Linked DNA regions of Homo sapiens: region 2 is linked to region 1. The links come from fine-mapping of genetic effects on gene expression. A gene starts in region 1. The other region holds a variant in brackets. All regions are shown on one strand. Distances are between the middles of the regions.

Evidence for each region. PIP is the estimated chance that this variant, and not a neighbour inherited with it, causes the effect. A credible set is the group of variants that fine-mapping cannot tell apart.
Region 2: its variant is the best candidate, but not a certain one, in a credible set for the expression of ZNF391 in esophagus muscle (GTEx, PIP 0.62).

Annotation. Positions count from the first base shown.
Region 1 is chr6:27,385,602-27,390,982 of GRCh38, reverse strand. It overlaps ZNF391 (zinc finger protein 391), which reads right to left and starts at 2,224. Exons shown (of 3, transcript NM_001076781.3): 1 at 1,908-2,224.
Region 2 is chr6:27,366,199-27,371,579 of GRCh38, reverse strand. It overlaps the pseudogene ZNF204P. Among named protein-coding and RNA genes, the nearest start is that of ZNF391, 20 kb to the left of the region's middle. RefSeq lists enhancers at 3,060-3,560, 3,561-4,061. The variant A/G (reference allele first, on the strand shown) is at 2,870.

The DNA of each region.
Region 1 (5,381 bases):
TTCCTGAGGGTCAAAATAGAAGACAGATGACACTGCTTACAGCTGCACTTCCTTGGTCAAGTCACTTTTCTGAAAAATCTCGTCCCACATTATAAAACACCATTACTAGCATGTGCTTGTCTTTTCTTACAAAACTTTCATCAATACTGCAAGTTAAACTATGGCAAAACATTTACAATAAAGAATATCATATATAGTATAAGGGAGATGATGCTATTGCTGTGCTCATCTCACATCAATGAATTTGAAAACTGTGATGGTGTATGTTTAAGGAAAGATGCTGTCAGAGGATTTATGAGTCTCCCTTCAGCAGCTGCTGCTCTAGAGCATGGAGAGATGCATTCTTTTTCCTGGCTTTGGAGGATGTATGTAAGATGGGAAAAGGAAGTCTAGCGGATGTGACAAAAGTTTCAGGGATAGCCCCCAAACATATTTCAGAGATGCTAGGAGGTTAGGGCTATACCTTTATCCAGAGTCCATCCAAGGGATTCCTCCACCATAATGTGGAAAGTTGCCTCTCCTTTTCTCCTTTCTTCCTCATACTTTCATTATTTGAGTCACCTTACTGCTCTCTGGATACTGTATCCCTACAAAATCATTATTCTCTTAAGTGGTCACAACATGCTGCAGCCCTAGCCAACCTGGTGGTTTGCTATTCCTTTATGTGACTCAAACTTTTTAGCACTAACAGCGCTGGCCACCACAGTTACCCTAATTATCTAAAATTCTTTTGACATTGCTTGTCTCTCCTATAATCAATTCCTGATCCAGGGATAATTCTCCTTTATTTTCTACCCCCTTCAGAAGGAAGAAGGTTTTGAAGGGTCAGGAATAGGGCTTCTCTGGGTGCTTTGTTTTGTGGCACTAGGTTGATTGCTTCCTGGAGCCTTTGCCAATCCACAAAGCAATCAGCAGAACTGCCTGGGCAGCCTCAGTTTAATCACAGAATAGAGAAAATCTTGTCCTACCAAAGGTGATCTTCAGGTAACAATGTTCCCAGATATTGGCTCAAAGCACAAACTCACACATAAAGCACAAACTCAATGATCCACAGTAACTGTCAATACACCCACAACAAATAATTAACAACTACTTTATTCAAGTACCAACCTTCATCATCAGAAACATAAACTAAGGACTGGCACTCAAGCAAGTACTTCTCTTTTTTGGGGGGGAGGGGCGCGGAGTTTCACTCTTGTTGCCTACGCTGGAGTGCAGTGGCGTGGTCTCTGCTCGCTCCAACCTCTGCCTCCCGGGTACAAGTGATTCTCCTGCCTCAGCCTCCCGAGTAGCAGGGATTACAGGCGCGCGCCACCACTCCCACCTAATTTTTGTATTTTTAGTAGAGAACGGGTTTCACCGTATTGGCCAGGCTGGTCTCGACCTCAGGTGATCCGCCCGCCTTGGCCTCCCAAAGTGCTGGGATTACAGGCGTGAGCCACTGCGCCCGGCCAAGCAAGTACTTCATCTCTGTGTGCCTCAATTTCCTTATCTGTAACATGGGCATAATAATAGTACATTACTTCATAGGGTTGATGCAAGGATTAAATGAGTTAATGCAGGTAAAAACTCTTGGAGCAGTGCCTGCACTCAGTAAGCACCTGGGAAACACCCCAGTACCGAAGACCTCCCTCGCCCAGCTAGAGGGGAAGCAGGGAGCAACCCTGCTCTTTTTCATCTCCCAGGGATACACCCGGGGAAAACCACTGGCTGTCACTGCCGCAGAGGGACTAGGCTGGCCCGCCAGTGAGACGAGCGCTGGGGGCTTCATGACCCCACGCCACGCGGCGTCCCAACCGTGGAGGTGCCTCCTGACCCGACCTGCAGCCAAACCACACGCGACCCTTTCGCCCGTTTCCTTCGAAGAACCCGTGTTTCCGCTTTCCAGAACCTCTAAGAGCACCCACCTTGGTCCCGGGGCCCTGTAAGCCTCACTCACCGGCCGCCTCCGGCCGAGTACCCCCGACACACCCCGGGCGGGTCCCGCACTTGGAGCGGAACCTGAGTGCGCTGGGCTTGGGGAAGTCGGAAGGATTAAAGAGAAACCCATGCGTCGAACCGCTGCTCCAACGCCCATCAGGTTCCCTAAGATCACAGGCACTCTTCCACTCAGACTGCTGCTGATCATGCTCTGCTCGGTATGCGGGACCAGTCATTGTCTGGGCAGTCGCCTGGACCTAAGTCTCCTGACGCGGACGACCAGTTGCAAAACAGAGACCACACTGAGACTGAGCAACGTATCAGCAGCGGTCGCAGCTCTGCGCTTGCGCCTGAGAGCCAGCTACAGCAGGGCTGTGCTGGGATTCACTTTCGTGGAAGGTTTTGCAAAGCCCCTCCCCTGGTATGCGAGAGGCTGAGAGGTTGGCGCTAGAGGCAAGAGGAAGGGGGTCTGCGAGAGGTGCCGAAGACCACCTTAATACACTGCAAAGTATAGCCTAGACCGGTGGTTCACAGAGTTTTAAATAGCGTACACAAATAAATCACCAAGTGAGCTTGTTAAAATACAGCTTCACAAGATTTACACTCCGAGATTGACTCGTTGGCCCGGAACATTGCATTTTCAAGGGGCACCCCAGATGATTCTGATGCAAGTGGTCTCTCCAGCCTGTCTGGAGAAACTGGCTCCGTTGCACAATCTAGTTGCTTAAATACTGTTAAATGCAAGACATGTCTCAAATTTCACCAAAAGAAAAAAATGAATAAAATCAGGACACTACCCTAATCTAGTAGATTTTTTAAAATTCCAGATAATTTTAATATAAGGTAATGAAGTTGCACAATGTGCCCTGGGAGTTCAGAGCAGGGGAAACTTATGGAACGAGGGACACTGGAGTGGTTTGACTAATGGAAGATTTAATGGAAAACATAAAGGAGGGCAACCTTACAAATAGTTGAGGAACTAGAAGAGTGGAAAGCATGTGCAAAACTGCAGGTCTGATACATGACAGCTGTGCACAAGTACCATAGAAACATCAAGTAAGTATAAAGCATGAGCCATGAAGTACAAAGGAGCAGGATCCAAATTATAAAGCTGGAAAGAATTAGATAAAGTCTAATTTTATCATTTCCTATTTTTAAAAATTAAAAACACTTTCAAACTGTGGTAAACTATGCACAACATTAAAGTTACCATTTTAAAGTCATACAGTAAAGTTTTTAGCGTATTCACAACAGCACCGTCACTATCTAATTCTAGAACATTTTCGTCATCCCTAAAGATGCCCATTGAGCAGTCTCTATTCCCTGCTCCCCACAGTCCCTGGTAACCTTTATTTTACACTATGTTTCTATGAATTTGCCTGTTCTAGATATGCCATATAAGTAAAATAATACAATATTTGTCTATTTATGTCTGGATTATTTTTAATTAGCATAAAGTTTTCAAGGTTCATTCATACTGCAGCATGTATCCTTCATGCCTTTTAATGGCTAAATAATATTCCTTCGTGTATATGTGTGTGTTTATACACAAACAGTGTATAAATATACATACATAATATTTTGTTTATCCATTAATCTCTTGTTGAACACTTGGGTGGTTCCTGCCTTTTGGCCATTGTGAATAATGCTGCTGTGAACATTGGTGTACAAGTATCTGAGTCACTGTTTTCAATTCTTTGGGTATACACCTAGGCATTGAATTGCTATATCATATGGTAACTCTGCAATCAGCTTTCTAGAGGAACCATCAAACTGTTTTCCATAATGGCTGCATCGTTTTACATTCCCATCAGCAGTGCAGGAGGGTTCTAGTTCTCCACATCTTTGCTAACACTTGTTAACTTCTGTTTTGTTGTAGTTGTAGTATTATAACCATCATAATGGGTATAAGCTTTATCTCATTGTGGCTTTAATTTGCATTTCCCTAATGGCTAGTGATGTTGAGCATCTTGTCATGTACTTATTTGTGTGTCTTCTTTGGAGAAATGTCTGTTCAAATCCTTTGCCTATTTTTGAATTAGGTTTTGTTGTGTTGCATGAGTTTTTGTATATTCCAGATATTCTTCTTCAGATATGATTTGCAAATATTTTCTCCCAGTCTGTGAAGTTTTTCTCTCTTTTGATAGTGTCCTTTGATGCATAAAACTTTTTAATTTTGATGAAGCTCCATTTATTTATTTTTATCACCTGTGCAATACTTGAAAATTACATTGTCTAATAAAGATTTTTATGTTTTCTGCTAAGAGTTTTATAGTTTTGCTTCTTAAATTTAGGTCCTTGATCCATTTTGGGTTAATTTTTGTAGATGGTGTAAATACTACAACTTTATTATTTTGCATTTGGATATCCAGTTTTCCCAGCACCATTTGTTGAAAATACTGTCCATTTCCCATTGAATGGTCTTGGCACTTGTTGAAAATCAATCAATCAACCGTATATGTGAGGTTTATTTCTGGGCTCTCTTTTCTATTTTATTGGTCTATATTCCTATTCTTATTCCAGCACCACACTCTTTAGGTTACTGTAGGCTTGTGTAAAGTTTTGAAATTATGAAGTATGTGTCTTTAAACTTTATTCTTTTCTCCAAGGTTTTCATTGGTTATTCAGGGTAATTTGATTTTCCATGTGAATTTTAGGATGGGATTTTCTATTTCTGCAAACAAATGTTGAAATTTTTATAAGGAATACATTGAATCTGTATATCAAATTGTATTATCATCTTATCAGTAGTTAGTCTTCCAACCCATGAACATGGGATGTCTTTCCAATTATTTAGGTCTTCTTTAATTTCTTTAAGCAATTGCAGTATTCAGCATACAGGTCTTTCACTTCCTTGGTTAAATTTATTCCTAGGTATTTTTATGCTATTTCTAATATGTATATATTCATTGCCATAAATTCCCCCTAAGCACTGCTTTCACAGCATTCTATAAATTTTGATAAGTTGTGTTTTCATTTTCATGTAGTTTGAAGTATCTTTTAATTGCTCTTGGCATTTCTTCTTTGACCCATGTATTATTTAGAAGTGTATTGCTTAATCTCCAAGTATGTGGGAGATTTTCCAATGATCTTTCTGTTATTGATTTCTAGTTAACTCTAATGTCATCTGAGATAAATCATTGTATGATTTCTATTCTTTTAAATTTGTTAAGTTATGTTTTACAGCCCAGAACATGGTCTATATTGATTAATGTTCCATGTGAGTTTGAGAAGAAAGAGTATTCTGCTGTTCTTGGATGAAGTCTATAGATGGCCATTATATCTAGTTGATTGATGATGTTGTTGATTTCAACTATATCCTTACTGATTTTCTGCTTCCTGGATCTGCCCATTTCTGATAAAGAATTTTTGAGATTTCTGTGATAGTAGATGCATCTCTTCCTTCTTGAAGTTCTATCAGTTTTTGCCTCATGTATTTTGAAAGTCTGTTTTTAGGTGCA
Region 2 (5,381 bases), 19 kb after region 1:
TTATGAGTTTGACACAAATTTTAGCCTCGTCTATTCATTTCATCAAACATATCAAGACTTACATATATATGCCAGGCACAGTTTTGTTGTTAGGAATATAAAGATGGGAAAATCTTGATTCGTGTGTAGGGGTGGGGATGGCAAAAGATACTCCAAAAGATAATTTCAAAACAGGTAGTAAATGCTATGATAGAGTCTAGGTAACTGCTCTTGTTATCTGGAACCTACTTAAACCATGGATGGTGTCTTAGACTGCTTCTATTGCTGTAAAGGAATACCTAAGCTGGTTAATTTAAAAAGAAAAGAGGCTTATTTGGCTCATAGTTCTGTAGATTATATAAAAAGAATGGCTCCAGCATCTACTTCTGGTGACGGCTTCAAGTTGCTTCCATTCATGGTGGAAGGTGAAAGAGAGCTGGCACGTGCAGAGATTACATGGCAAGAGAAGAAGAAAGCGAGAATGGAGAGGGGGACCAGGCTCTTTTTAACAACCGGCTTTAGCCTGGAGCGGTAGCTCACACCTGTAATCCCAGCACTTTGGGAGGCCGAGGCGGATGGATCACGAGGTCAAGAGATTGAGACCATCCTGGCCAACATGGTGGAACCCATCTCTACTAAAAATACAAAAATTAGCCGAGAGTGGTGGCGGGTGCCTGTAGTCCCAGCTACTCAGGAGGCTGAGGCAGGAGAATCGCTTTATCCCGGGAGGCGGAGGGTGCAGTGAGCCAAGATTGTGCTAATGCACTCCAACCTGGCGACAGAGTGAGACTCCACCTCAACCAAAGTAAATAAATAAATGAATAAATCAGCTCTTGCAGGAACTAATAGAGTGAGAACCTTACTATGGGGGACAATACCAAGCCATTCATGAGGGATTCACCGCCGTGATCCAAAGCTTCCCATTAGGCCCACCTCCAACATTGGGAATTGAATTTCAACAAGAGGTTTGGGAAGGCAAACATTCAAACTATTGAGAATGCAATGCCTGTGGCGTTTCTGTGGTCATGAGGTGGCAAGGAATGTTTGGTTGCCTTTACTTCCTGGAGCTGAAGATTCAGTTGGTATGACTTCAAAAACATACCACATATGTGGATTTCTAGACCAGTGCTATGCAATATAACTTTTGTGGATATTTTTGATGTATACATTGCTCGGTACAGTAGCCACTAACCACATTAGCTATTGAGCACTGAAATGTGACTATTGCAATTGAAGAATTAAGTCTTTTATTTAATTTTAATTTAAATAGCTACATGTGGGGAATGGCTACCATATTGGAGAGTGTAGTTCTAGAATATCAAGTGGTTGCTATAGACACAAGCTGACTTCTTCGTAGCTCCTCTCTCTTCCCTCAGAGCCACTGTCTCAAGACTCTGCCCTTCTTCAAGAGAAGAGCCCAGAAGAAGAGAGAATGACTGCTAGGCCCTTTATGGCTGGATTCAGGGTGAGCTGGATTTTCTTTTCATTTCCTGAAATATCTTATATTTTCTACTTTCATTCTGGTGGTTTGGGGCCCAAAAAAACTTCAATTCAGTCACTTGAATTCCAGATATTTTATTTTCTAGGAACCAAGGCCTATTCTCTTTGATCATGAATTTTATAAGATTGGTTGTCTATTGCCACCTGCCTTCCCATAGTGTTTTTGTTTTTGTTGTTTGTTTGTTTGTTTGTTTCTGGTAACTAGCATAGCATTTAGTAACTAGCATTTGATAACTAGCATAGCAGGTAGGCTCTCAATTAGGCATTGTCTGTGGTATTCAGTTCTTCAGCAGCCTTGTCTAACCAAGGAGTTAAGGAAGAATTCAAGGAAACACACACATCCATTTTAAGTAGTAAAGAGAAAACATCCCATAGGAGTTCAGAGAAGGAGAGTGTGATTTGGAGGATTTTATGAAGGGGTGGAATTTTGGTGTGCACTGAGATATGGTTGCAATTTTGTCAAAGGAGAACTGAGGGATTTTAAGGGAAGAAAATATAAGACAAAACTTAGAGGTAGAAGAGACCGTGTCTTCTATGGGCAATGGGTAGTAGCCATATATTGAAAATTTTAAGGGTGAAATTTGCTGTGCTAAGTAGGACTAAGGGTTTGACTTTGTTGTAGAGCTGATTGTGAATTATTAGAAACTTTGGGAAAAAAAATGCCATGACACAGCTTGTTTTGGTAAGGAACAGTAATGGTTTGGTTTAGATTTAGGGGATGAAAGAGAAAGGAATTAAAAGTAACTCCAGTTAAGAGAACCTAGAATATCTAAGAGGAATAAGGTGCTTTGGAAGAGACACCAGTGTGCTGTGGAGGGGACATAGGTGGGATACTAATTGGGGTGAGTTAGCATTGTAAATAGATTATGTTAAGGTAATAAGACAAGTTGAAAATGTCATAGGATCCTTGGGTTATTGCTTCGCCAGCCAGAAGCCTCTATGGCCGGCAGCTCCTTCTGCCTGAGTAATTGAGTATTGGTTTTACCACTGGGCTCGTTCCACCCACTCAGCCTGGCAGGCTGTGCTCAACTCACACTACTGTCTCAGATCCCACATCTGCCAAGGGTGAGCCACACAGCAAGGGGTGTGTGGGCAAGTGAGCATGGGGTCTGGCCAGTGAGCACAACCAAGCATGCTGGCTGCTGTGGTGGTGCAAGCAGCTCTGCACAAGGCTGCAGCTGGAACAGATATACCGCATGCAATGGAAGTACTTCCACTGTGGGCACCCATGTCTGGACAAGGGGAAAGCAATGGCTTCTGGAAGCTTGGAGATGCCAGGAGCCACAGAGCCCCAAAGAGGGTGTCATAGTGCTGGCTCAGGGAGTCTCTAGATCTAGGCTCACTTAAGGGCTACAGCTCTTCTTTTCATTGCCTGCAATGTGGCAGATGG[A/G]GAGGCGTGTTTCAACCCTGTTTGTGTTAAAGCTTTTTCAGTCCTTCCATTTGGCAGGTCCCAAGTTTTTGGCCCATGCTTGGTCCATGTCCAGGAAGAATGAGGTATGTGGACAACTGGAGGGTGAGCAAGGTGGAGAGGAGCTTCATTGAGTGACAGAACAGCTCTCAGGAGACCCAAAGTGGGTGGCTTCTTTCCACAGACAGGTTGTATCCATGAGTGTCCAGCTGTCAGCAGAGAGGAGACCTGCAGTGGGTAGCTCGTTTCCGCAGTTAGGTCCTCCCCATGTCTGTTTGAATCTGACTGAGTCTGAGGTTTTTATGAGCTCAGAAGGGAGGAAGTGCGTGCTGATTGGTCCACGGTGGCCACGGGTGGCTGGAAGAAGCACCAGAAGTTCTCACTTAAGGCCAGGCTGTGGATTGCAGCCAGAACTGACAGCCCAGCCCCCATGTGTTAGGCCATCCCTGGCTGGAGGGTGGGGCTTCAAAGGGGACCCACCCCTTTCCACCCAGGAGCCTGTATGCCTCCTGTCACCATCAATTATGTCCTCCATGGTGCCCAGGCTGTTTGTGCTGGGCCTGAAGGCCCACACTGAGCCACCCTCAACCCGGCTCCAGCCTCCTTCCCATGCTCTTCAGTGCCCAAAGTCTGGAGGGGGGAAAGGTGGCAGGGGCTGGCATGTCAGCGCTGCCCTGAGCACACCTGGTCAGGTCGTGACTGCACCCAGGCTCAGCCTCAACTTTGCTGTAAAATCAGAGTGGATGCCAGGACCAGGGAGATGCCAAGCAGTGGGAGCAGGCACTTTGGAGCCTGTGGAGGACAGGGCTTCCAGGGCCCGCAAGAGCACAGGGATGCCCAGGTTCACAGCCACAGCTGGGCAGCTGCAGCTGTTCCTGGAAGAGTGGGGTTCCCGCCCCACCAACTTTCATGTTGAATTATAATCCCCAGTGTTGGAGGAGGGGCCTGGTAGGAGGTGATAGATCATAGGGGCAGATATCCACCTTGCTGTTCTTTTGATAGTGAGTGAGTTCTCACAAGATCTGGTTGTTTAAAAGTGGGTGGCACCTGCCCTCTCTCTCTCTCTTCCTCCTTCTCCAGCCATGTAAGGCATGCCTGCTTCCCCTTCACCTTCCACCATGATTGTAAGTTTCCTGAGGCCTCCCCAGGTGTGCTTCCTGTACAGCCTGTGGAATGGTGAGTCAATTAAATTTATTTTCTTTATAAATTAACCTGGTCTTAGGTAGTTCTTTGTAGCAATGCAAGAACAGACCAATAAATAATATACAATGTATTTATGTAGCGAGTGTATTGTTTGTCTTTCTTACTATGGAGTATGCTCTATGTAGGCAGAGTTTTTTTCTTTTTGTTTTGTTTTGTTTTTTAGTCTCTTTCACTGTTATATCACCGTGCCTAGAGTATTTAGCATATAGTACTCATTAAACTTGTGTTGAATAAATGTTGAATGATTTAAAACAATTAAAAGTTTATGCTCTCCAACCTCAAAATGCCTCCTCGATAATCTTGGCAGTCCCTAACACTTCTGTGGAAAACTTAATTTGCTATATTAATTTTAATCTTCATATGGCTGAATTTTAAGGTTTTCTCTTAAAAATCTTAAATTTTCTTACAGACTTTTAAACTACGTTTTTAGTAGCTGCTCTAGGGATTACAATATATATCGTTACTTCTTCACAATCTTCTTAGATTTAATGTGTCACTTCACAAAAAGTGGAAGCCTTGCAACTATATGTGTTCAATTATGACACCTCGTTCTTTTTGTTCTGCTTGTTGTTCTGTGTGTTACATCTACATATGTTATAAGTTGTTCAAGAAAATGTTATGTATATATTTTAAATAGTTATATATATTATAAAGAAATAAAGACAAAAGCAGCCAGGCGTGGTGGCTCATGTCTGCAATCCCAGGACTTTGGGAGACCAAGACAGGTGCATCGCTTGAGCTCAGGAGTTCAAGACCAGCCTAGCCAACATGGTTAAACCCTGTCTCTACTAAAACTTAAAAAAAAATACCTAGGCCTGTTGGTGCATGCCCGTGGTCCCAGCTACTTGGGTGGCTGAGGTGGGAGGATCACTTGAACCCAGGGTCAGAGGTTGCAGTGAGCCGAGATTGTGCCACTGCACTCCAGCCAAGATGACAGAGAAAAACCTGTCTCAAAAAAGAAAAAGAGGAAAAAAAAATAAAGATAAAAGCAAACTTTTAAAAACAAATTTTAATTTGCCCAATGATTTCTAAATGCTCTTTATTTCTTTATTTCTTTTTGGGAATCAGAATTTCTATCTGGTGTGATTTCCCTTCATCCAGAACTTTCTTAATTATTTCTGCATTAATCAAACAAAATTCACAGTGGCACTCCATCCATTTAGCCACTCTAGCCAGAGTCCAGAAATCCATCTTTATAGTCCCTTTCCCTTCATCTGTGTATCCAGGTTGCCATCAAACCTTGTCAAATTTATTTCCAAAATATATTTCAAATCTATCACTTCTTTCTATA